4 linked regions of the Homo sapiens genome follow. The protein of the gene in region 2 interacts with the protein of the main gene of each other region in a pairwise test. Each region holds a gene or a part of one and is shown on either strand. Other genes may lie near its edges. The genes, in order: PRPSAP2, TEX11, CCDC198 and TIPIN.

Region 1 (7,048 bases), on a different chromosome or scaffold from region 2:
TGCTCTCCAGCCGGGCACTGTGGCTCACGCCTGTAATCCCAGCACTTTGGGAGGGCGAGGTGGGTGGATCACAAGGTCAGGAGTTCAACGCCAGCCTGACCAATATGATGAAACCCCATCTTTACTAAAAATACAAAAATTAGCTGGGCGTGGTGGCGTGTGCCTGTAGTCCCAGCTACTTGGGAGGCTGAGGCAGAAGAATAGCTTGAATCCGGGAGGCAGAGGTTGCAGTGAGCCAAGATCATGCCACTGCACTCCAGCCTGGGTGACAGAGCAAGACTCCGTCTCAAAAAAAAAAAAAAAATTGCTCTCATGGCCGGGCACAGTGGCTCACGCCTGTAATCCTAGCACTTTGAAGGCCAAGGCTGACAAACTGCTTGAGCTCAGGAGTTTGAGATCAGCCTGGGGAACATGGCAAAACCCCGCCTCTACAAAACAAAAATTAGCCAGGCATGGTGGCGCACATCTGTAGTCCCAGATACTCAGGAGGCTAAGGTGGGAGAATCGCTTCAGTGCAGAAGGTCAAGGCTGCAAGTGAGCTGAGATTGAGCCACTGCATTCCAGTCTGGGTGACAGAGTGAGATCTTGCCTCAAAAAAATAAAAAATAAGGCCGGACACGGTGGCTCACGCCTGTAATCCCAGCACTTTGGGAGGCCGAGGCGGGTGGATCACCTGAGGTCAGGAGTTGGAGACCAGCCTGGCCAACATGGCGAAACCTCATCTCTACTAAAAACACAAAAATTAGCCAGGCATGGTGGCACGTGCCCATAATCCCAGCTACTCGGGAGGCTGAGGCAGGAGAATTCGCTTGAACCTGGGGGGGCGGAGGTTGCAGTGAGCCGAGATCGCACCACTTCACTCCGACCTGGGTGAAAGGGGGAGACTTGGTCTCAAAAAAAAAAAGACAAAATTGTTCTACCATCAAAAAAACTCAGCACTTGTATTTTTCAAAAAAAATTTTTTTTTTTTTAGTACTGTGAGATGCCTGATTTTCACATCAATTTAAAGTCTTGGTCAGGTGCGATGGCTCACAGCTGTAATCCCAGCACTTTGGAAGGCTGAGGCAGGCGGATCACCTGAGGTCAGGAGTTCAAGACCAGCCTGGCCAACACGGTGAAACCCCGTCTCTACTAAAAATACAAAAATTAGCCAAGTGTGGTGGCATGTGCCTGTAATCTCAGCTTCTAGGGAGGCTGAGGCAGGAGAATCACTTGAATCCAGGAGGTGGAGGTTGCAGTGAGCTGAGATCATGCCACTGCACTCCAGCCTGGGCGACAGAGCGAGACTCCATCTCGAAAAAATAAATAAATAAAAAATAGTCATAATATAGCAAAGATAACAGTAATACAGAAGAGTCTTTAAAAATTATATTAGAGCAGATCAAATCTTCTTGAAGTTTAACAGGCATGGCAAAGTCCAGTCTTAAGATAACAAGTCAGCCGGGTGTGGTGGCTCATGCCTGTAAACCCAGCACTTTGGGAGGCCGAGGCAGGAGTATCACTTGAGCCCAGGTGTTTGAAAATGGCCTGGGCCACATGGTGAGACTCCATTTCTACTAAAAATACAAAAAACTAGTCAGGTATGGTGATGCATGCCTGTAGTCCCTAGTTACTCTGGAAGCTAAGGTCGGAGGATCACTTGAACCCAGGAGGTCAAGGCTACCTCCTGGTAGTGAGCAGTGATCACACCACTGCACCCCAGCCCGGGCAAGAGGACTGAGACCCATGGGGAAAAAAAAAGATATCAAGACAAACTGCACCAGCCTGGAAATTGGAGAAAACAGAAAACCTTCACCACCTTTGTAACGATCACCAGAAAAGTGTAAGGAAAATTCAGTATGAAAAATTGTTTAAAGCATTACTTGCCCAAAAGAACAGGAAAGTAAGTCTGGAGGCCCATCAAGCAAGGCTGGTAGAGAAGATGGGCCCTTTCCTGAAGATTCAGCAGGCAAGCCTGCTCTCCTCACCAGCTGCCTGTCATAGTGTTTACAATGGGGTAGGCTCCTGAGGTTGCTTCGGGTTGAGTTTTTAATTTTATTTTTATTTTTTTGAGACGGAGTTTTGCTCTTGTTGCCCAGGCTGGAGTGCAACGGCATGATCTTGGTTCACCACAACCTCCACCTCCCGGGTTCAAGCAATTCTCCTGCCTCAGACTCCCGAGTAGCTGGGATTACAGGCATGTGTCACCACACCCGGCTAATTTTGTATTGTTAGTAGAGACGGGGTTTTTCCATGTTGGTTAGGCTGCTCTGAACTCCCAACCTCAGGTGATCGCCCCCTGGTTCTCCCAAAGTGCTGGGATTACAGGCGTGAGCCACCACACCCTGCCTAGTTTTTAAATGTTTGTTTTACGTTTGCCTTTACTGAAAAACTATCTTAGAAAGTTTATTCTGGGCTGGGCGTGGTGGCTCACGCCTGTAATCCCAACACTTTGGGAGGCTGAGGAAGGTGGATCACCTGAGGTCAAGAGTTCGAGACAAGCATGGCCAACATGGTGAAACCTCGTCTCTACTAAAAATACAAAAATTAGCCAGGCGTGGTGGTGGGCGCCAGTAATCCCAGCTACTCAGGAGGCTGAGGCAGGTGAATCGCTTAAACCCAGGAAGTGGAGGTTGCGGTGAGCCGAGATCACGCTACTGCACTCCAGCCTGGATGACAGGTGAGACTCAAAAATAAAAAATAAAAATAATAATAATTAGTTGGGCATGTTGGTGTGTGCCTGCAATCCCAGCTACTCTGGGGGCTGAGGCAGGAGAATTGCTTGAACCCGGGTGGTGGAGGTTGCAGTGAGCCAAGATCACGTCATTGCACTCCAGACTGGGCAACAGAGCAAGACTCCGTCTCAAAAAACAAACAAAAAAAAAGGTTTATTCTACAGTAAGTACCTGTCTTAAAATGCAGTGATATGGGGACTTTTATTCTATTCACTCTGTGCAAATGCTCCGTGATACATACCTTCTAAAATCATATACATTCAGGCTGGCTATGGTGGCTTGTGTCTGTAATCCCAGAATTTTAGGAGCCCAAAGCAGGTGGATCACTTGAGGTCAGGAGTTCGAGACCAGCCTGGCCAACATGGCAAAACCCCATCTCTACTAAAAATACAAAAATTAGCTGAGTGTGGTGGCAGGCACCTGTAGTCCCAGCTACTAGAGAAGCTAAGGTACAAAAATCGCTTGAACCCAGGAGACAGTGGTTGCAGTGAGCCGAGGTGCCACCACTGCACTCCAGCCTGGGCAACGGAGCAAGACTCCGTCTCAAAAAATAAATAAACAGAATAAAAATTAAAATAAAAAAATCATAGGCCGGGTGCAGTGGCTTACGCCTGTAATCCCAGCACTTTGGGAGTCTGAGGCGGGGTCGGGAGTTTGAGACCAGCCTGACCAACATGGAGAAACCCTGTCTCTACTAAAAATACAAAATTAGCCGGGCGTGGTGGCGCATGCCTGTAATCCCAGCTACTTGGGAGGCTGAGGCAGGAGAATCGCTTGAACCGGGGAGGTGGAGGTTGTGGTGAGCGAAGATCATGCCATTGCACTCCAGCCTGGGCAACAGGAGCGAAACTCCATCTCAAAATAAATAAATAAATAAATAAAATCATATACACTTATACAAGCGCGCACACACACAAACACAAATATATTGACACAAATACCCAATAACAACTATGAAGGTTATTTAGAAACACAGGAAAAATACTTAGGTTGTTACCTGAAAATGCCTGACACAGAATAATATGTATCTTTTCCAATATATGCCTATCTAGGCAGGCACGGTGGTATATGTCCATAGTTCCAACTACTCAGGGGGATCACTTGAGCCCAGGAGTTCAAAGATCATCCCACATAGCTTCCCAAAGCATTGGGATTGCAGGCGTGAGCTGCTGTGCCCAGCCATTACTTTGATATTTCTAAGGTAAAAATAAAACTCCAGCAGGGTATGGTGGTTCATGACTATAATCTCAGCACCCTGGGAGGCTGGAGCAGAAACATCCCTTGAGGCCAGCAGTTCAAAACCAGCCTGAACAACATAGTAAGACCCAGTATCTACAAAAAATTTAAAAATTAGCAGGCAGGGTGGTATGTGCCTATAGTCCTAGCTACTTGGGAGGCTCTGGTGGACTGCTTGACTGTAGGAGTTCAAGTTGCAGTGAGCTATGATCACGCCACTACACTCCAGCCTAGGTGACAGGGCAAGACCCTGTCTTAAAAAAGAGAGAATAAATAAATAAAACTCCCAGGCCCCCAATTAATTGTGAAACATCTGCCATTCTTACCAGCTTTGCACATCATGGAAGCCAGCAATTTAGAGACAATGGAGCCTCTTTTTCTCATCTTGCACTGCTTGCTGTAAGGAAAGTAGGGTATCACGCCAATGATGCTCTTGGCACAAGAGGTCTTACATGCATACACCATGATCAGGAGCTCCATGATGGTGGTGTTCACGTCCCTGTAACAAAGACACAGCAAATCTCATCAAGGGATCTACAACACAGTATTCCCTGTTCCAAAAAGTGTCAGCAGTGTGTTACTCATGCCTTTATACAACCTAAGGTGCAAGGCAGAAAAAAACCAACCAATAAATTCCTCTTTTCTCAGGCCTCCATAAGATCCCCCATCATCTGCTCTCAACTGACCACCCTACTTAAGTACTCTCAGAGGAGCGTGTCCACAAGCTCCCACTATGTGCATCTGTGCCCCAGGAGTCGGCCTGCCCTCAGTCATCAGTCAGAGGAAATTTCCATGCCAGTGGCCCTAAAATTAATCCCTCCAAATGGCACACCTATGTAAGGAATTCTCTCTCCTCTCCTGCCTCCACCACTGATAACCCATCGGCCACAAACATTCTGTTACTTCCATTAACACGACTCATAACCACTCTCCCCTCTGCTCCCCTTTGCTGTACATCTTACACTATCTCCAATTTATCTACTCTCAGTCTCTCCCAAATAGTCCAGTGAAGCTTTGTTTTCATAAAGGTCATCAGTGGCCTCCATGCGGCCATGTCCACGGTCACTTGGCTTCCAGAATGCCCCTCTCTGGTGTCCTCCTTCCACCCTTGGTTTCTTTTGCTGGTTCCTCTTCTCCCCAGCCTCACGTCCCAGGACTTGCTCATGTGTCCTCTCTTTCTGTTCCCTCTCGTCCTTTGGGCTTCTCATCTAATTTCACAGCTTCATAGATGGTGGCAACTCTCAAATTTACAACTCCAGTCCAAACTTGAGGATCTGCCCCTCCCCTCCTGCCTGGCCACACCTGACCCTGTTCAGTCCTCCCACAGCAGCTCACACCGCTAAGGGGCTTGCTCTAGGCGTTCCCACTGCCTGCAATGCTTTTCTCCCCACCTAGTCACCTGACTCTCCCTCACCTTCTCTAGTCTCTGTTCAAATGTCACCTCCACAATGAGGCCTACCCTGTCTGCCTCTCTCTGCCCTCTCACCACTATCATCTCACCATGCTGTCTTATTTTTTTCCAAACCATTCATCACCTTCTAGATAATCTATGTCTTTATTATGCTCACTTTATGTCTTCCTCCACTGGAATATAAACTCCACAAGGACAAGGACTTTCTCTGTTTTAATCATGGAGGCATCCTGCATACGTGTAACTAACTGTAATTCACATATTGTAGACATTCAAAATAAGTATTTGTTAATGAAAGAAGGAGTGAATGGAAACACAGAACATTCAGGTGAGTAGGTTCTCTGTCACTATACAACAAGTCTGACATCTGATGAGTTAAAAGAGACTTTCACCCTGTTAATTAACTTAGGAAAAAAAAAGATTTTCAGAAAAGTATTCTATGGGAAGGATAAGAGTGGAGGAACAAGGCTTTCCATTACTGAACTCAGATAAGGACAGTCTTGTTTGAAATACAGGAAAACTTCAGTTAATGGATGGAATTTTCTTAATTTTAAATTTCTCTTTTATTTTTAGTGCTAGCACTAATCTGTAGTAAAATGAAGTATAAGATGTATCTGACAACACTAAATCATTTTTTTGTTTGTTTGTTTTTGAGACGGAGTTCTGCTCTTGTTGCCCAGGCTGGAGTGCAATGGCATGATCTCGGCTCACCGCAACCTCCGCCTCCCAGGATCAAGCAATTCTCCTGTCTCAGCCTCCCGAGTAGCTGAGATCACAGGCATGCGCCACCATGCCCGGCTAATTTTGCATTTTTAGCAGAGAGAGCGTTTCTCCATGTTGGTCAGGCTGGTCTTGAACTCCCGACCTCAGGTGATCTGCACGCCTGGGGCCTCCCAAAGTGGTGGGATTACAGGCTTTTTTTTTTTTTTTTTGAGACAGAGTCTCACTCTATCACCCAGCCTGGAGTATAGTGGCGCCATCTTGGCTCACTGCACCCTCTGTCTCCTGGGTTCAAGCGATTCTCATGCCTCAGCCTCCCAAGTAGCTGGAATTAGAAGCGCATATCACCACGCCCAGCTAATTTTTGTATTTTCAGTAGAGACAGGGTTTCACCATGTTGGCCAGGCTGGTCTTGAACTCCTGATCTGCCCGCCTCGGCCTCCCAAAGCTCTGGGATTATAGGTGTAAGCCACCTCGCCCAGCCTTTTTTTTTTTTACTTCGAGATGGAGCCTTGTTCTTTTACCCAGGCTGGAATCCAGTGGCGTGATCTCAGCTCACTACAACCTCTGCCTCCTGCGTTCAAGCAATTCTCGTGCCTCAGCCACCTGAGTAGCTGGGACTACAGGCGCTCATGACCATGCCCAGCTAATTTTTTGTATTTTTAGTAAAGACAGGGTTTCACCGTGTTGGCCTGGCTGGTCTCAAACTCCTGGCCTCAACTGATATGCCCACCTCGACCTCCCAAAGTGCTAGGATTACAGGCATGAGCCACCACATCTGGCCCTCAACACTAAATGTTATTTCATGGTATTTCACAAAGAAGACCATGACGTCCAGACTCTGCAACATGGACAAGACTGAGAACCCGAGTTAACACAAGCTTATGTCAGGTATGGAACAATGCAAAATGAGACACGGAGAGAAAATGAAAGGGGTGCTGAGTGATTCTGATTAGAGGAATATGAA
Region 2 (7,048 bases):
GAACTCAACTGATGCTCATGGAGGGAGTATTTAGACCAGCCCTAGCTAGAGAGCAATTGTCCATCCCAGTAGTTGGAACTTGAGTTCCAACAAGCCTTGCCACTGAGAGCTAAAGTGCTCTGGGGTTCTAAATAAATTTGAGAGGCAGTCTAGGCCACAAGGACTGCAACTCCTGGGCAAATCTTTGTGCTGTGCTGGGCTTGGAGCCAGTGCATCTGGGGGACATGCGACCTAGTGAGACACCAGCCAGGGCAGCCAAGGGAGTGATTGCACGACCCCTCCCTCAACCCCAGGCAGTGCAGTTTGCAGCTCCAAAACAGACCCCTTCCTTCCACTAGAGGAGAGGAGAGGGAAGCTTAAGGGGGACTTTGTCTTGCATCTTGGATACCAGCTCAGCCACAGTAGGACAGGGCACTTGGCATAGTCATGAAGGTCCCATTCCAGGACCTAGTTCCCAGATAACATTTTGAGACACACCTCGGGCTAAAAGGTACCCACTGCCTTGAAGGGAAGGACCCAGTCTCGGCAGGATTCATCACCTGCTGACTAAATAGCACTTTGGCCCTCAGTGATCAGCAGCAGTAGCCAGGTAGTACATACTGTGGGCCTTAGGTGAGACTCTGAGACATGCTGGCTTCAGTTGTGACCCAGTACATTCCCAGCTGTGGTGGCTATGAGGAGAGACTCCTTCTGCTTGAGAAAAGCAGAGGGAAGAGTAAAGAGGATTTTGTATTGCAGCTTAGATATCAACTCAGCCACAGTGGGTTAGAGCACCAAGTGGGCTCCTAGGGTCCCCGGTTCCAGGCCTTGGCTCTTGGATGGCATTTCTGTACCTGTCCTGGGCCAGAGAGGAGCCCACTTCTCTGAAGTATGAGTCCCAGGCCTGGCAGCATTCACCACAAGCTGATTGCAGAGCCCTTGGGCCTTAAGTGAACACTGGCAGTAGCCCAGCAGAACTCCCCACACCACCTGATGGTGGTGGCCACGGGGAGAGACTCTTCTGCGTGTGGAAAGAGGAAAGAGTGGGAAGGACTTTGTCTTGTGGTTTGGATACCAGCTAAGCTGCAGTAGAATAGAGCACTAGGTAGATTTCTAGGGTTTCTGACTCCAGGCCCTGGCTCCTGCATGTCATCTCTGGGGCCAGGGGGAAGTTGCTGCCCTGAAGGGAAGGACAGCCTGGCTGGCTTCATCACCTGCTGACTGTAGAGCCCTAAGGCATTGAGCAAACATAGGTGGTAGCCAGGTAGTGGTTACAGTGGGCCTTGGGTGAGACCCAGTGCTGTGCTGGCTTCAGGTCTGACCAGCACAGTCCCAGTGGCAGTGGCCACAAGGGTGCTTGTATCACCCCTCCTCCAGCCCCAGGCAGCTCAACATAGTGGAACAGAATAGCAAACCCAGAAATAAATCCATACATCTACAGTGAACTCATTTTTGACAAAGGTGCCAAGAACATACTTTGGGGAAAGAAGAGTCTCTTCAATAAATGGTGCTGGGAAAACTGGATATCCATATGCAGAAGGAGGAAAGTTGAGATCCCTATGTCTTGCCTTATACAAAGATCAAATCAAAATGGATTAAAGACTTAAATCGAACACCTCAAACTATGAAACTACTACAAGAAAATATTGGGAAAGCTCTCCAGGATATTGGAGTAGGCAAAGATTCCTTGAGCAATATCCTACAAGTATGGGCAACCAAATCAAAAATGGACAAATGGGATCACATCAAGCTAAAAAGCTTCTGCACAGCAAAGGAAACAATCAACAAAGTGAAGAGACAACCTGCAGAATGAGAGAAAATATTTACATACTACCCCTCTGATAAGGGATTAATAACCAGAATATATACAGAGCTCAAACAACTCTATAGGAAAAAAAATCTAATAATCGAGTTTTAAAATAAGGAAAATATCTGAATAGACATTTCTCAAAAGAAGACAAACAAATGGCAAACAGGCATATGAAAAGGTACTTACTATCACTGATCATCAGAGAACTGCAAATCAAAACTACAGTGAGATATCATCTCACCCCAGTTAAAATGGCTTATATCCAAATGACAGGCAATAATAGGAAGTGCTGGTGAGGATGTGGAGAAAAGGGAACCCTTGCACACTGTTGGTGGGAAAGTAAATTAGTACAACCACTATGGAGAACAGTTCGGAGGTTCCTCAAAATACGAAAAATTGAGTTACCGTATGATCCAGCAATCCCACTACTGGATATATACCCAAAAGAAAGGAAATCAGTATATCAAAGAGGTATCTGCACTCCTATGTTTGTTGCAGCACTGTTTACAATAGCTAAGATTTGCAAGCAACCTAAGTGTCCATCAACAGATGAATGGATAAAGAAAATGTGGTACCTATACACAATGGAGTACTATTCAGCCATAAAAAAAATAAGATCCAGTCACTTGCAACAACATGGATGGAACTGGAGGTCAGTATGTTGAGTGAAATAAGCCCAGCACACACACAAAAAACAAACTTCACATGTTCTCACTTATTTGTGAAAGCTAAAAATTAAAATAATTGAACTGCTGGGGAGAGAAAGAGTAGAGTGATGGTTACCAGAGGAGGGGTGGGGGAAATGTGGAAATGGTTAATAGGTACAAAAAATAGAATGAATAAGATCTGTACTTAATAGCACAACAGGGTGATTATAATCAACAATAATTTAATTGTACATTTTAAAAAACTAAAAGTATAATTGAATTGCTTGTAACACAAAGGATAAATGCTTGAGGTGATGGATACCCCATTTATCCTGATATGATTATTATGCATTATATGCCTGTACCAAAAAATCTCATGTACCCCATAAGTATGGGTACATGTACACCGCTATGTACCCACAAAAATTAAAAATAAAACATTTTTAAAACTAAAAAACACTGGATTGTAGTGATAGTTGCACAACTCTATAAATTTACTGAATTGTGCACAAGCCATGGGTGAATTTTATGATATGTGAATTATACCTCAAGAAACCTAATTTTAAAACAACTGAATAAACCTGCACAGAAAAGAAAAAGAAATCAGCAGAGGAGGGACTAGAATACAGGTCTTCAATGTTCCTTCTACTCTTCTGAGAAAGGATGCTTCTGAGAAAGGATGGGAATAGCAATAACTTTTTTCAAAAGGTTCATATCATCACAGAGAAAGTAATCATCCCACCATGATTTGAAAATATAAAATAATTCAAAATGCCTGGTGGTACTGCTACTTGGACCTAATCCATAATACACTTGTGTTAGAAAATGTCTACTTTCAACTATTTATATTTCAGAAACCCAGGAAAATTCTGTAGTGTGTAACTACAAAATTGTAATATGAATTTATCCTAAAACTCATATCAGAAAGCATTATTGTATATAATTTATAGTACACAAGACAGTTCAGTTCTTTAAAATTAACTGAAAGTTTAATATCACTATTTGACTTACAGTGCGGCTAATGTGGCTCAGAGCATCTTCAAAATAGCCCCAAACTTCTTCCAGGGGACAGAGCTCTACATTCGACGCCCCATCTGGCACTGAGAGGTTAACCAAGTTGTGCATACATTTGCTGAAAATCAAAAAGAGAAAACTCATCCCATAAGGAAAGAAATCATTGGCTTCATGGCTAAGATAAGTAAAACCTGGATCTCATCCCAGACTAACAGCTTCAAAACACTTCTGTTCTTCCCTCGGTTTTATCTGGCCTCCAACCTCAGAAGACAGATTTTTGAAGCTGTAAAACAGGTTGACCAATCCTTTCTTTTTTCATGCCTATGGTTGTCTTTCATTCTTTTTTTAGTTTCCTGCACGAAGGAGTTGTGGCTGTCTATTATATTTTATGAGCTGGTTCAATTTACAGGCATTTTAAAGCATCTCGGTACTTCCTCAAATGGGCAAGGGAACTGGGGTTTAAAGTGGAATGATTCCACAAGAACTGTCTTTCGTGCCTTAACACAGGAAGACTGTAATGATGTTTTCCAGACAAAAAAAGTCACACAACATCTATTTTTCCCCATGTCTGGACACAGAAAACAAAAAAGTCTCCAATAGATAATATTTTATACAGCACTTATCGGTGCTTAAAGTGCTTAGAAAAATAATGAGGCAAACATAGCAAGATGTTAACATTTGTTAAATCTGGGTGCTGCGTGCCTGTAATCCCAGCTACTCATGAAGCTGAGGTGGAGAATCATTTGAGCCCAGGAGTTTGAATCCAGCCTGGGCAACATCACGAGACCCCATCTCTAAAAATAAAACAAATAAATCTGGGTGGTGGATACGTTGGTGTTTGTTATATTAACCCCTGTGCTTTTCTGTACATTTGGAATATTATTTAGTGATGAAACAAAGAAAGAAAGGTACTTAGCAGTTTTATTATATACACAGATTCACACAAAGAAGCAACTTTTCCCCTTTTTTTTCTCCTTTGGGAAAACCAAGCTCCTTGACTTTGCTAAATAATTATTGGTCTGTAATACAACTCTCAGTATGGAGCTGTTCACAAGAATGCCCCCAGATCATCCCCATATCATCTTTAAAGTTGAGTCAATTAAGAACGATTGGTTACTTTTGAGGCATTGACTATAGTTCTTTTGGCTAGCAAAAAGGCTGGATTGTATTTACTAACCTGTATTGTGATATATCAATTGGTTCTTCCTTTTTGTAGAGCAATAAAGCCTTTTTCAAGGCCTTGAGAGCAATCAAAGGATAGTGTGCAGGCTTTTCCATTGCTATTACTAGAGTAAGAAAAGGAAAAAGGTTGTGAACATGATAATGTCACCCATCACAGTTTTCATCCCAGGCTACCACTTGCTTTCTCTAATGAAACTGGGCTGAAACAGATGAACAAAAATAAACAACAATGAATTTTATAAATGATAAATCTACAGTCGCTTTTGGAAATAGCTTCTACTTTCTGGGCAGAGTAGCATGGTGGGATTACCAGGTAACATCCTTTTTTCAGCAAACATCAACAGAAAACCTACTGTTTGTATGACCTTGCACACAGTCATACAGGTGAAGCAATAATCTTATGAATGACAGTCAAGGAAGGGCACACTAAGAAGGAAACAGAAAGCAGATCAGTAAAAGGGCACTAATTGAAACAGGTTTGTACTAAAATGTCCTATTTTTATCTGATACTAAAAATAGGAAACACTTGACAAGGGAGTATCAGAGGTAACTAACCCTAAGACTTCCAGATGCATTTAACAGATTTTTAGAATTGGAGTTCCATTATACAAGGAGCAGTGGTTGCTGTCACATGTCCATAAAGTATATATCATCTGCTCCATGGCTCTAGGAATTCTGTCTTGGCAAGACCAAGGAAAGGCAAATGTGACTCTTGTGCACTTGGAGCTACCTAATATTTTTATTAACCACACACATGCTCCTGAAGAGGGTGAGAGATAAAAAGGGAAGATAATTAGGCTGTTTCCTGCAGTGTACTCCCAAAAAGGCTCTATGCCCCCAAACCCACGTAAAGTTTGGCCTGAAATTTGAGAGTGGCAATTGTGTTAAAAAATATTACCAGTATTTCTCTGTACATTTCAACAAACAGCTAAGATTGCATCACTTTTGATTGTTGAAGCACTCAGTTATTTCTAGCTAGCCCAGAAAAACTTTCTAAAGTTTGAGCTCCCCCTGTTGTGTAGTTACATAATTAAATTCCACACAGAAAAAATTTGAGCACCTATTAGGAGCAATGAACTTCGCTAGGGTTTGTAAGTACAAATTAAGTAATTATTGTTTATGACCCTAAAGAGATTATAATCTCATAGAGTGAAGAAGATAAATGCACAAATGATCATAATACAAAATAGTCTAAGAATGGCATTAGAGAAGGAGAAACAAAGTGCTATGAGAAAAAATTATTTCCTACCTGGAGGTAAGAAAGAAGAGTAAAGAGAAGAAAAAAAGTCATACGATCTAAATGGGCACCAGCCTTACAAAAGCATAAATATAGCTCTTACTTGCAATTGTTTCAAAAGTTTTAGTTTCTAAATGAGGCAACTCCCACACTGATTCCAGGAAGCTTTCCAGTAATGGATCATTCAATTTGGCTCTAACTTCAAACTCGTACAGCAGAAGCAATTTCTCACATGAATCATTTGAGAAGGTCCCTAAGAAAGAGGCAAAAATGCAACATTCTTTGTGATTATATTATATTATTCTCTTTGGTTGTAATTTCACTAACTGGAGAGGTTTTCCTTCTAAGAAATATTAATTTTACTTACAATTTGAAGGTCATCTTCACTGCTGTAGACAGATTCTAAATTTTATTTTTGTTTTTTATTTGATTCTAACATTTTAAAATCTCTAAGCTAACCGCTACTTCCAACATTCTGTAGCGCATTCACTAGAACTACCTATATTTTCTCAAACAATTGCCACGATGCTTCTAAACAGCCTGAGAAAACCCTGCTGCTATTATTGATTCTAAATCAAATCCAGTGTTTACTTGCTTCTTGTGAACTTTCAACTGGGCTGGTGCTCACTCTAATGGCCGAGTTAACCAGAAGATACAGTGCTGTATAAACCAACAGTGACTTTATTTTAAGCAGAATAGAGGAGAGTTTCCAAACTGTTTCATTAGTCGACAGAATTTCTTGGGCATCAGCATAGAAAGAATTTCATGTCAGGTGTCATACACTAAACTATGTGAGACACTTTTCATTCATCCTTCTTGGTAGATTGAACATTGAAAAATGTTTTGAGGTATGACATATATACAACAAACTGAAAGAAGTGCTCTAACCTTAAACAGCTTGATGAGTTTTTACATGTGTTTAAACCCGTGTAATAACTACCTAGATTGTGATAACAAACACTTCCAACAATACAGAAGGTTCCTTTGTGCTCCTTTCCAGTCAATACCATCCAACCAAGGTAGCAACTATCTTTGCTTTTCTGCGTTTATGTTTTGCATCTATTTTCATGAGGAATCTTGGTCTGCAGTTTCTTATATTGTCTTTGTCTACTACTGGTATCAGGATAATAGTCTCATAAGATGAACTGGGAATTGGGCCCTCCTTTCAGGATGAGTTTG
Region 3 (7,465 bases), on a different chromosome or scaffold from region 2:
CGATTGATGACATTTTTCTTTAAGAACATTCTCATTAATAGCTTGGTCCTTATCAATATCCCTCTTTGATGATTATAGTTTAAAAAGGGATGTTACCATTTTATCCAAGAAATTCCTTATGAAGCCTTTTAAATTCATCTTACTTGAAGTCTTTGGGGTGGATGCCTTTTAATAATACTTGTTTCTCTGTGTTCCAGTGGGATGTCAAAATACATGTCTCTGGATGCTTGAAGGATTGGGGAAGAAACAGGAATAAAACATTAAATATAATTTACTATTAAATCAGGCAATCATTAGTTACTAGACTTTGTCAACACAATTTTGTACCTTTTCAGTTATATATGTCTAACCTGTGGGTTGAATGTGGAGATGAAACACAGAAAGCAGGGAACCTACATTAGTGCACATGACACTATTTTAGTCTGGACCCAGGATTTAATATCTGCTCTCCTAACTTCCTACTCAGGTTCATACTTAGGGGGAGAGTTACAAAATTACCAATATGTTGACTGCAAATATTTTTCAAACAGAATTTGGCCTGGAAAATAGAAATTTATTGACTTATTTTAATTCCATAAAATCTCCTCCCTGAAATATAAGACATCAGAAAAATATATAACTTTAAAAAATGAAAACAATCTTCTTAGATGAAATAGATGATAGATAGATAGGTGATTATACAGAGATGAGAAAGAAATGGAGTACGTGTGAACACAATTCAATAGCCCCTTTAGTGAAAAAAATTTCCACAGGTTGCCACTGTAATACAGCATATCAATATTCTTTCCTGATGAAACAAGCTGGGGATACAGAGTTAAGCCTCTATTAGGAAACAGAGAGGCTCAACAGATCCATTATGGATTTTATTTTCCAGCTTGATTATCCTGAGCTCTTGGGAGTGCTACCATGACCAGCGCTGCATGAATGAAGTTCTTGTCCTTCCCTTTTAACAATCTGGACACATTCTGACTTCTAGATTGTTTCATAGACTATTTTACAGTCCCACTTTGCATTTTAAATGGAAAAATCCCTGGGTAATTATGCATCTCTCTCCTTAAGACATGTGAATAACCACTTCAAGGACTTTGTTCTCTCTAACTTTTAGTGGGATGGAAACTATGTCCTTATTTTCTTTTGAAAAGATGCCAGCATATTGAGCAGGATGGAAACAACAAACATACTGGATTTAACAATGTAAGTATTTTCAGCTATTTTTTCAGAAGGCTTACTAATCCTTATTTTTTTTATTTTAGTGACATTACTCCATTATTTAATTAGATTTTCCTCAACTGGCATAGGCTGTGTCAGGCATTTATTTTTACCCCTGATTACAAGTGAAAAAAATTGATGAAGTAACTTGCCCAAGGTCATTCGATTTGGTATTTGATGGAGCTGGGGTGAGAATATGGGAGATCATGAGGATTCTCATGATCTTGTTATTTATTTTTAAATGTGATTTTGTCACTTCAGACATAAGCTCACCATTTATTCAGTTACCTAAATCTTTTTTTTCTTTTAATTGAGACAGAGTCTCTCTCTGTCACCAAAATCTTAAAACTCTCAATGGGGGTTTGGATAAAAAGGGAATTCCTCAATAGGAGCATTGCATACTCTTAGTACACATTCACGCTCCATTTTTTAAATCATGTCTATCACCTATCCCTCTATCTATCATAAAAAAATTCCTAAGGGGAAAATTCCCATCCATGTGCTTAAGAACTTGAAGAACATAAAGAACATAAAAACAGGCCATATAGAAACAACCAAACGTTATCAATTCTGCAGACAATAGCCATGAAAAATCATTCCAGGCAAGATTTGCTAGGTACCAAAAGAGAATGTGAGGCTTTCTGAACAAGGCATCCAATAAGGGAAACTTATTTGTGTTATTGATCCAGAAGGTGAAGAAAAGGGAAAACAATATACATATATATATGTATATAATAAACATATATTTTTCTAAGTGAGAATGTCTGTTTAATTATCATTGTGGTCATCATAAAACATTTTACATGGCTTATAAAATATCCCAGGATTTATGGCCACTTCAGGCTCAGAGCTTCCAATCATAATGGGAAAGAATTCTGTTAGTTCTGCAGATGACCATGAAGAATGTGGGGTTGGGAAAAGGGTGACTCATCCACTCCTCTGTACTGCAATAAATCAATACTGTTTAGGGTGGTTTCAAAATTCATGTTAGAATTAACTCACTCTTAAAGTGTTGCTTTCAAAACCACAAAGTCTGGTGCATTAAACTATACTGGAGAGAATGATTTAAATTTAGAATCTAACTGAAACGCGATTGCTATCATTTATCACTAGTATCTATATAATTTTAATGGTCTGGCAAAACTAGGTATAAACATTGAAAGCATTACAAACTGAGCTGAAACAAAATGATTTATCCTTCTCATATGGAATAGTGAAAAGTCCTTTGTACAGTTTATACTCCCATTCTAATGAACCCAGAATACTTTCAACTGATGTTCAATCCTCATTGAAAGATTTGAGTTTTCAAAGATAGCCTAAATTCCTTTACATTTCAGGAATTTAGAAACTTTCTGAGATCATGGAGACAGTCAGATAAACCTATTAATAATGCTCCTTGGTCCAGATACACACATCTCATGCTGGGTTTTATGTTTACCTGTAGAATATCTTCCATACCAGTTTTCTTGTAAAGGTGGCAGCTGCCCTTCCAAGGCTTTATTCTGGTCCTGCAGTCTTGCCAGTGAATATGAAGTCTTTTCTTCCAAATTCTGATTGAATGCAAAGTCCACACGGCCAGCCGAGGGAGTCTCTACCTCTTTGTTTTGCAAAGGTGCTACTTTGATCACCCTAAGGTGAGTCTTAGAGTGACTCAGGCCCATTTCATGTGAAAGACATTCAGAGGAAAGCTGCGAGGGAAGTGGTTTTGGGGTCTTTAATATAGCTTATTTTAATCAAAGCATTTCAGAAGTTTACCCTCGCTTTACAAAGCAGTCATTTCCTTCATGGCATCCTTCTAGCTCTGTTTCACTGCACACTAACCCTTTTGGCCACTTCCTGGGAGGCTGGTTTCCATGGAGACTTCCCTTCAACTTTGCCGTTTCAGACCCAAAGAATCCAGTTAAACATTGACTTGGTTATGCTACTTTCTGAAATACTCAGTGATAGGAATAGAAGCCACTGTTGATCATTAAACAAATATCGAACACCAGGAAGGTTATTAACAGAGAGAGATGTAGAGCAGAGGTTTAGAGAAGTCTTAAACTTGACCCTTTCATTGCAAGTACCTTTGTAAAAAAACTAACTGCTGAGAATAGCTAAGCCATCTTTGCAATTAAGAGGATGCATGCTGATTGCCAAGGCTTTGTTAATCTTTAATTTAATTAAAGAATTTATCCCCCAAATAGGAAAGAAAGCAGCGGAGCGGCTAAAGCGTCATTTGATTTTTCTGTCGATGACTTGAGTTGCCTTTGAAGGGGGTGAATACATTGCAGGACAGGAGGATAATAGAAATTTTTTTCCTGGGGATAAGGGGAAAAAATTCTTGAATAAATGGTCTAAGTAAACCTTGAGTTTTTGAAGATAACCTATTTACTATGTTTTTAAACTAAATTAAATTAATTTATTTATTTTTGAGACAGAGTCTCACTCTGTCACCCAAGCTGGAGTCACCCAAGCCCAGCGATCTTGGCTCACCACAACCTCCGCCTCACCAGTTCAAGTGATTCTCCTGAGTCAGCCACCCAAGTAGCTGGGATTACAGGCACCTACTACCACCACACCTGTCTAATTTTTGTATTTTTTAGTACAGAAGGGGTTTCACCATGTTGGCCAGGCTGGTCTCGAACTCCTGACCTCAAGAGATCCACCTGTCTTGGCCTCCCAAAGGGCTGGGATTACACGCATGAGCCACAGTGCCTGGTCTATTATGATTTTTAAAGTAGAAAAAAAGACTGGAAGGAAATGTGCCGAAATATTGAGTAGTGATTTTTGAATGGTGGGATTATGGGTGATTTTTATTTTATTCTTTATACTTAGAAGTGGGACTAACTTTCAAGCTCTAATTGTTCATGAGCACAGATTACTTGTGTTTTCATCACATCTCCATAAAGAAATTAAAAGAAAATTTATTTTTCATCTTTGCAGAATCCATTTCCTAAGGGACTAAGGTGATGTTTGGAAAGTCTTGGTAGACAATCACGTTTATCTAAAAAGATGCCTGAATTTAGTTTTTTCCTTACTCTCTTTGCATTTTCCACATCATTTTCTCTGCAGCAGAGAGGTTTATAAGTAAAGACTAATATATTAACAGTATCTGCAAACACAACAGCCTCTGGTAAACAGACTAGCTTAATTACAAGGATAATAATACTTGAGTAAGGTCTAGTAAGATTTATTTTTTAGTACAATCAGTTTAAGTATTTCTAAGGGCAGGGGAATGTATTGCGAACTAACAAATGAACTAGACATTGTACTGAAAACTGTGGACTTCATGGATCTGGACCAGTAAGAGGGATTCAGCTCTTATGTTTTGTTTTATTATTATTTAATTTTCAGACAATATTTGTGGAGAACATGAGCCTTTGTTGAGGAAATTGGTTAGTTGTTGAAGGAATAATTAAAGAAATAAAGATGCATTTCTGTGCTTCTTTCTCTTTTCATTACTAGTGACTATCAAGCTTTGTGACTTTCCTGATCTGTGAAATGGGGTTAATAACAATACTTTGTGGGAAATGAACCTGATTCCATTTATAGCTCTTAGACTAATACCTGGCATGTAGTAAGCTCACAGTAATCATTAGCCAGTATCCTCCTCCTCTGAGGAAGTATTGCTACATATCTACATGTACATAGGATAGTCTTTATTGCCAGTTGGTCAGAAATTAAAATAGACATATTCCTGTCTAAAGGAGTTTGCCCCTAGGTATAGAAAAGACCAACGAGGGAAGCGTAAATTCATCTGGCCAATTTAACTGGGAAAACCACCATGTCTAAGGATTATCATTAGAAAATATTCATACACTGAAAGGATTTTATTAAAATTTGATAGTGAAACATTTTAATTTTATTAAAAGAGAAAAAGAGTTTAATTTCACTGATAGAGTTAGATATAAGATGTAATTTCTTATTACCAGAGTTGTAAAACATTAAAAAGCTCTCACCCAACTAAAACCTTGACTACTTCCCAAACACTTTGTGATACTTTATAATGACCACTCCCTAGTTCAAGAATGACTATGACTATACGTTATTGTGTGTAAAAATGATAAAACATGCTGTTATTTGTAACAGTCAGAATTCATGAATATGGAATGAGAATATTAATTTATAAAACTCTTAAGATTAGCTAAACTTTTCTAAAGCTGAAGGTAGCATCCAGAGAAAAATGTACTAAGAGAAAGTGGCGAGGCCCCAGAGGAGATGGAGAGAAGCAGGAACTCACAGCCAAGTGTACTATTTCTGCCAGGAAGAATCAAAGCCCTCAGCCTGGAGCATCTCCACAGGCAATGTGACCTTGAAGTTCCCAAGAAATAGCCGTGTACAAGCTCCTGGTGCTTGGACCTTTCTTGCCTTCTGTAGAAAATGCCTTCCTTCAAGACACAGAGTGAACCAAGCAATAAGGAGAAGGCAAAGTATAATGTCTATTTCAAAATATACATTCATTTTGAAGTTAAAAATCCTAGCTTTTGTTCTGGGTTCACTCCTAACTAGCCTTGGGGACAAAACTATTAAGGAATATTGTTTAGTGAATATAAGTTCTATAGAAACTCAATACACATTCATTATGAGATATGTGGATTTTTCTGCTCTCTAATAAGAGAAAGTTTTACACTTGAATGATGGGAGGCAAGATCCAGGTCTTTAAGTGTGAGTCTGCTATCATACTTAAGAGAGTAGGTGCTCTCTAAGTTTCCTTACAACCTCCTATAGCTTGATTTACACTGTAATATCTATTTAGAGCCAGCATAAGGAGAGAAGCTTTCCTTCCTGTGTGGAAACATTACCTACCTTTTTCCATCAGATTGTGATTTGATAGCTCTTGCCTTAGTTTTGATGGATTTCCCAGAGTCATCTACAATCTCTTTCCCCATACCTTGGTAAGATGACTGCCTGGAGATAAGGAAAATGCCTGGGATGAACAAAGACATCTATTTTCTGCAAGTAGCTTACCAGCTAACAGGAATTCATGACTGCAGTAGCACTATGTTCTGAGAAGCTACCTAGAGAAAACCATGCAAACACTTGAGGAATAGTAAATCTTAAAGTTTAAACAACCTAATATCGGATAAATGAGTTTCTTTTTTTAATGAGCTGTGGGTAATTTCGTTTGGATGTTTTATATTAAGCAAGTGACAAAGGCTAAGGTGATATTCCTTAGGACTGGATGGTGGTAGTCTGGAGTCGGGTTGGTTAAATTGCCTTTTGATCCTTCAGCATACGGTTTTCTTGGAAAGGCTTCAGAAGGGATTTAAATCAACATGTGTATAAATATTCCATACAGTTGGACTTCATTCAGTCAGTGGGGCTTAAATTCTAAATGTTTATAGGTTCTTAAATTAGGCTTCTAATAAAGTTACAGCCTTTTTCTGCAATGGATCTGTAATGGATAAGCAATCACTGGAGGCTTTTCAGCAGCAGTGTGAATTATAGGTTTGCATGCTAACTAAGCAGAGTTGATGTATGACCCGAACCTTAATTTTCCTTCCAGTGATTATTTTCCTCCCGATTTATTTATATATTGATGTAAAGGTGACAGTGTAATCAGACCTACTGGGTTTGGAAGTGCTCAAGCAAAACAAATGGAAAAAATGTTAACTGAAGCGTCTTGTATAACCTCTTCCATGAGATCAGTTGTATACGATTTGTCTCTTTACCCTTTGAATGCAATCTGCAAGTACATCATTGAATGAAATGCTAGAATCATGCCTTCGCACACTATACTACTCTGAAGACAGCCAGTGCGTGGGTTTCTTAAAATGTATTGCCAATGGATTTAACCTAGATAAAATAATATTTGTATATTGTATCTCTAAAAGGAACATCAACCTTTGGTTATCATAATCCTTTTTATCTTTTAAATTTTTATTTTATTTTAAGTAGACAAATACCTGTGAATGTTTATGGGGTACAGTGTGATGTTCCGATACATGTATACCTTGAAAATGATTAACTCAGGGTAATTATATCTATCACCTCAAATATTTATCATGTTTTCTTAGTGAGAACACTTAACATCTTCTCTTTTAGATATTTTGAAATGTACATTATTAACTGTAGTCACCTTGCTGTGCAATAAAACACAGAACCTATTCCTCCTAACTGTAACTTTGTACCCATTGACCGATGTCTCATCTCTCCCTGCCCACCCCCTATTGCCTAATCCCCCAACTCCACCTCCCCATCCCCAGCCTCTGGCAACCACCATTTTACTCTCTACTTCTGGGAATTTGACTTTTTAGATTCCACATACAAGTGA
Region 4 (3,995 bases), on a different chromosome or scaffold from region 2:
CTGTGGGTAGGGGTGAGGGGGTGGGGTGGGAGAGCCTTTCCTAACACTAACCTTTCTTATTTGTAACTACCCCCTCTACCTGGCAGGAAGAACTCCAATCAGGTGTTCTCACGATTTGGCCCTAACACATCTAACCTCAAAATCAGCATTCCTAAAATCTGCCTTATCCCCTTAATCTTATTTCTGTATCATTATTGTACATGTGCTTCCCAATACTTGGAATCTCCTCCACCAAAAGCAAAGTCTTTCCTGTAAATCCTCCCGAGATGCTATGTTCCCCACGATACTTTGCAAGTTTCACTCCAACTAGTCAGTAAGTTCCCAAAAAGCATTCTTTGAACTACCCTAGCACCTATGAGGGCCAGGCAATGTATCGGCCTTTCATGTGACCTTTTAACTATTAAAGTAACTCCTTAGAAAACATGTAAAAATCTTGTATTTACCAAAAGTGTAAACTGCAGAACTATATAGCAATGAAAACCTCCCATAAAGCCTGTAGATAGTTTTTAAGATAATTTTTACTTCTTTTAAAAAATTGACATTAATATTCAGTATATATGTACATCTCAAAACTTCACCCAGGCTGGGCGCGGTGGCTCACACCTGTAATCCCAGCACTTTGGGAGGCCGAGGGGGGCGGATTACCTGAGGTTAGGAGTTTGAGACCAGCCTGGCCAACATGGTGAAACCTCATCTCTACTAAAAGTACAAAAATTAGCCAAGCGTGGTGGCACACGCCTGTAGTCCCAGCTACTCGGGAGGCTAAGGCAGGAGAATTGCTTGAGCCCAGGAGGCAGAGGTTGCAGTGAGCCAAGACTGTGCCACTGCACTCCAGCCTGGCCAACAGAGTGAGACTCTGTGTCAAAAAAAACAAAACAAAACAAAACAAAAAACTTCAACTAGACTACTCTGGGCACACTGTCCATGGATTAGCCCTGCTTTGCAAGGAGCAGTAAAAAACAGAAACAAAACCTCCCAACTTAGTGAAAACAAGGCATTCAATGACAGACCAGCAGCAGAAACTGCTTATTACCTCCTAATCATTTTATGAAGAAATACCTATATAAAAACAAACACTAAAGAGAACAAATAGATTTAACTAAAGTGACAAGCATAATTATAAATAAATACCAGATTATCAGATTTTAAACAATAATCTATAACAGTTTTACTATCTAAGGATTTTCACTCCAAGAAGAAAAAATACATAGTAACGCCAAGCTTGCAGGACGATGACTTAACAGATACATTTTCTCTTAATGGAAACTTATCTAGCTTCAGTAATATTTCTGGATGTAGCATCAAGTTGCTGTTGCACATTTTTAAAAGACTGGTCCAGCAGTGTTTCCTCTTCATTTAAAGTATTGGCAATAGCATCATTACATGGATTGTCCAGAATGTCTTCGTTTAATCCATTTGACTCCTCCTTTTGATCCTCATCAGTATTAACCTCTTCAACCGTGTGTGCCCTGGGTGTATTCATTAACATATCTGAAAGAAATCATACCATTATTATTCATTATAAGTACCTGATCCAATCTTACCGCATGAGTACAAACCTCTTCAAAAGCTCAGTTTAGTAAAATGAAGTCTAAGATCACTTAATGTTAATTATGATCACTTTCTTCTAAATATATCTTTTTTTTTTTTTTTGAGATGGAGTCTCGCTCCATCACTTTGGCTGGAGTGCAATCGCACGATCTGGGCTCACTGCAACCTCCACCGGGTTCAAGTGATTCTCCTGCCTCAGCCTCCCGAGTAGCTGGGATTACAGGTACCCGCCACTACACCCGGCTAATTTTGGTATTTTTAGAAGAGACAGGGTTTCACTATGTTGGCCAGGCTGGTCTCGAACTCCTGACCTCAGGTGATCCACCCGCCTCAGGCTCCCAAAGTCCTGGGATTACAGGCGTGAGCTACCACGCCTAGCCAATAAGCCCATTTTTATACAATTAAGATCCATTTTAAATGCAAGAGAGGCCAGGCCCGATCCCAACAATGTGGGAGGATCATTGGAGCTCAGGAGTTCAGGACCAGCCTGGGCCACATAGTGAGACCCCATGTCAACAAAACATCAAAAAAAATAAAATAAAAAAAAAAATAATTAGCTGGCTATGGTGGCGAACCATGATCGTGCCACTGCACTCCAGCCTGGGTGACAAAGTGAGATCCTATAACCAAAAAAAAACAAAAAAAAAGCAAAATGGTTTTGAATGTTATTCAACTCACACTCTTGGATCATAGTCAAATGTAACTGTTCTTATTCAAAATCAAACTACTATTGGCCAGGCACAGTGGATCATGCCTGTAATCTCAGCACTTTGGGAGGCTGAGGCAGGCAGATCACTCAAGGTCAGGAGTTTGAAACCAGTCTGGCCAATATGGTGAAACCCTGCCTCTACAAAAAATACAAAAATTAGCCGGACATGGTGGAGCACGCCTGTAATCCCAGCTACTCGGGAGGCTGGGACAGGAGAATCGCTTGAACCTAGGAGGCGGAGGTTGCAGTGGGCCGAGATCAGCAACTGCACTCCAGCCTGGGCAATACAGTGAGGCCCCATCTAAAAAAACAAAACTGAAAACTACTAGAAAGAGGTCTAATAAAAACCAAGTGCGTTTAGGTTTTATGTCAGAGTGATCCATAAGAAACTTTAAAGTACTTATTTCCATTTGGACAAATTTTAAGTTGTATATGATAAACAGAGGTGAGCTTTAAATACCAACTGCCAGGTATACTTGATATTGACAGCAAAGAAGCCACTGCCATCAAGAATAATGCTATCTTCATGTAATGTTTCACATGGTACTAATAAAACATCCATTTATAAAGAAAAAGTAAATTGGCCAGGTGCGGTGGCTCACACCTGTAATCCCAGCACTTTAGGAGACCGAGGTGGGTGGATCACGAGGTTAGGGGATCGAGACCATCCTGGCTGATACGGTGAAACCCTGTCTCTACTAAAAATACAAAAAATTAGCCAGGCGTGGTGGCAGGCACCTGTAGTCCCAGCTACTCGGGAGGCTGAGGCACGAGAATGGCATGGACACGGGAGGCGGGGCTTGCAGTGAGCCGAGATCACGCCATTGCACTCCAGCCTGGGTGACAGAGCAAGACTCCGTCTCAAAAAAAAAAAAAAAAAAAAAAGGAAAAAGTAAATTCAGCTGGGCATGGTGGCTCACACCTGTAATCCCAGGACTTTGGGAGGCTGAGGCAGGCAGATCACTAGGTCAGGAGTTCAAGACCACCCTGGCCAACACAGTGAAATCCCTTCTCTACTAAAAATACAAAAATTAGCCAGGCATGGGGGCACGCACTTGTAGTCCTAGCTACTTGAGGAGGCTGAAGCAGGGGAACTGCTTGAACCCGGGAGGCAGAGGTTGCAGTGAGCCAAGATCACGCCACTGCACTCCAGCCTGAGCTACAGAGCAAGACTCCATCTCAAAAAAAAAAAAAAAAAAAAAAAAAAGCAAAAAGAAAAAGTAAATTCATCTTAACTGAAAAAAAAAGTAGCCAAAATAATTTTCACTTAAAAATGTTAATATATTGGGTGAAACTTCGTTTACAACATGGTATCTAGTTATTATAATTCTTTTTTTTTTTGTAGAGACGGGGACTCACTATGTTGCCCAGGCTGGTCTTGAACTCCCAGGCTCAAGTGATCTGCCCACCTCAGCCTCCCAAAGTGCTGGGATTACAGGCAAGAGACACTGTGCTGGGCCTATAATTCTTATTTTTCCATTTTGAAAGGAAAAACTGAATGGGAAATTAAGAAAGATATACGCAATCCTGCTTACTTCATTCAAAACCAACTTGCAATTCTTTCTAAATATAGTTTTAACAAATTTGGTTATATAGTTTCCAAACCCACAATGTGTGTTAAAAACAGCAAATTTAGGCCAGGTACACTGGCTCATACCTGCAATCCCAGCACTTTGGAAGCCCAATGCTGGAGGATTGCTTGAGACTAGAAGTTCAAGGCTGCAGTGAGTCAAGA

The links.
Region 1: the proteins of TEX11 (region 2) and PRPSAP2 interact in binary tests that used the Homo sapiens proteins (3 or more experiments, as listed by UniProt).
Region 3: the proteins of TEX11 (region 2) and CCDC198 interact in binary tests that used the Homo sapiens proteins (3 or more experiments, as listed by UniProt).
Region 4: the proteins of TEX11 (region 2) and TIPIN interact in binary tests that used the Homo sapiens proteins (3 or more experiments, as listed by UniProt).

The regions. Positions count from the first base shown.
Region 1 is NC_000017.11:18,875,099-18,882,146, reverse strand, and holds part of PRPSAP2 (phosphoribosyl pyrophosphate synthase-associated protein 2), read right to left. Parts: intron 4,450-7,048; coding exon 4,277-4,449; intron 1-4,276. UniProt on the Homo sapiens protein: Seems to play a negative regulatory role in 5-phosphoribose 1-diphosphate synthesis.
Region 2 is NC_000023.11:70,548,679-70,555,726, forward strand, and holds part of TEX11 (testis-expressed protein 11), read right to left. Parts: intron 6,123-7,048; coding exon 5,973-6,122; intron 4,737-5,972; coding exon 4,628-4,736; intron 3,569-4,627; coding exon 3,448-3,568; intron 1-3,447. UniProt on the Homo sapiens protein: Regulator of crossing-over during meiosis. Involved in initiation and/or maintenance of chromosome synapsis and formation of crossovers.
Region 3 is NC_000014.9:57,490,846-57,498,310, forward strand, and holds the start of CCDC198 (factor associated with metabolism and energy), read right to left. Parts: upstream 3,013-7,465; 5' UTR 2,871-3,012; coding exon 2,648-2,870; intron 1,195-2,647; exon of another isoform or gene 227-1,194; coding exon 144-226; exon of another isoform or gene 139-143; coding exon of another isoform or gene 97-138; intron 1-96. UniProt on the Homo sapiens protein: May be involved in tuning the metabolism, energy expenditure, and excretion processes.
Region 4 is NC_000015.10:66,335,691-66,339,685, forward strand, and holds the end of TIPIN (TIMELESS-interacting protein), read right to left. Parts: intron 1,492-3,995; coding exon 1,268-1,491; 3' UTR 501-1,267; downstream 1-500.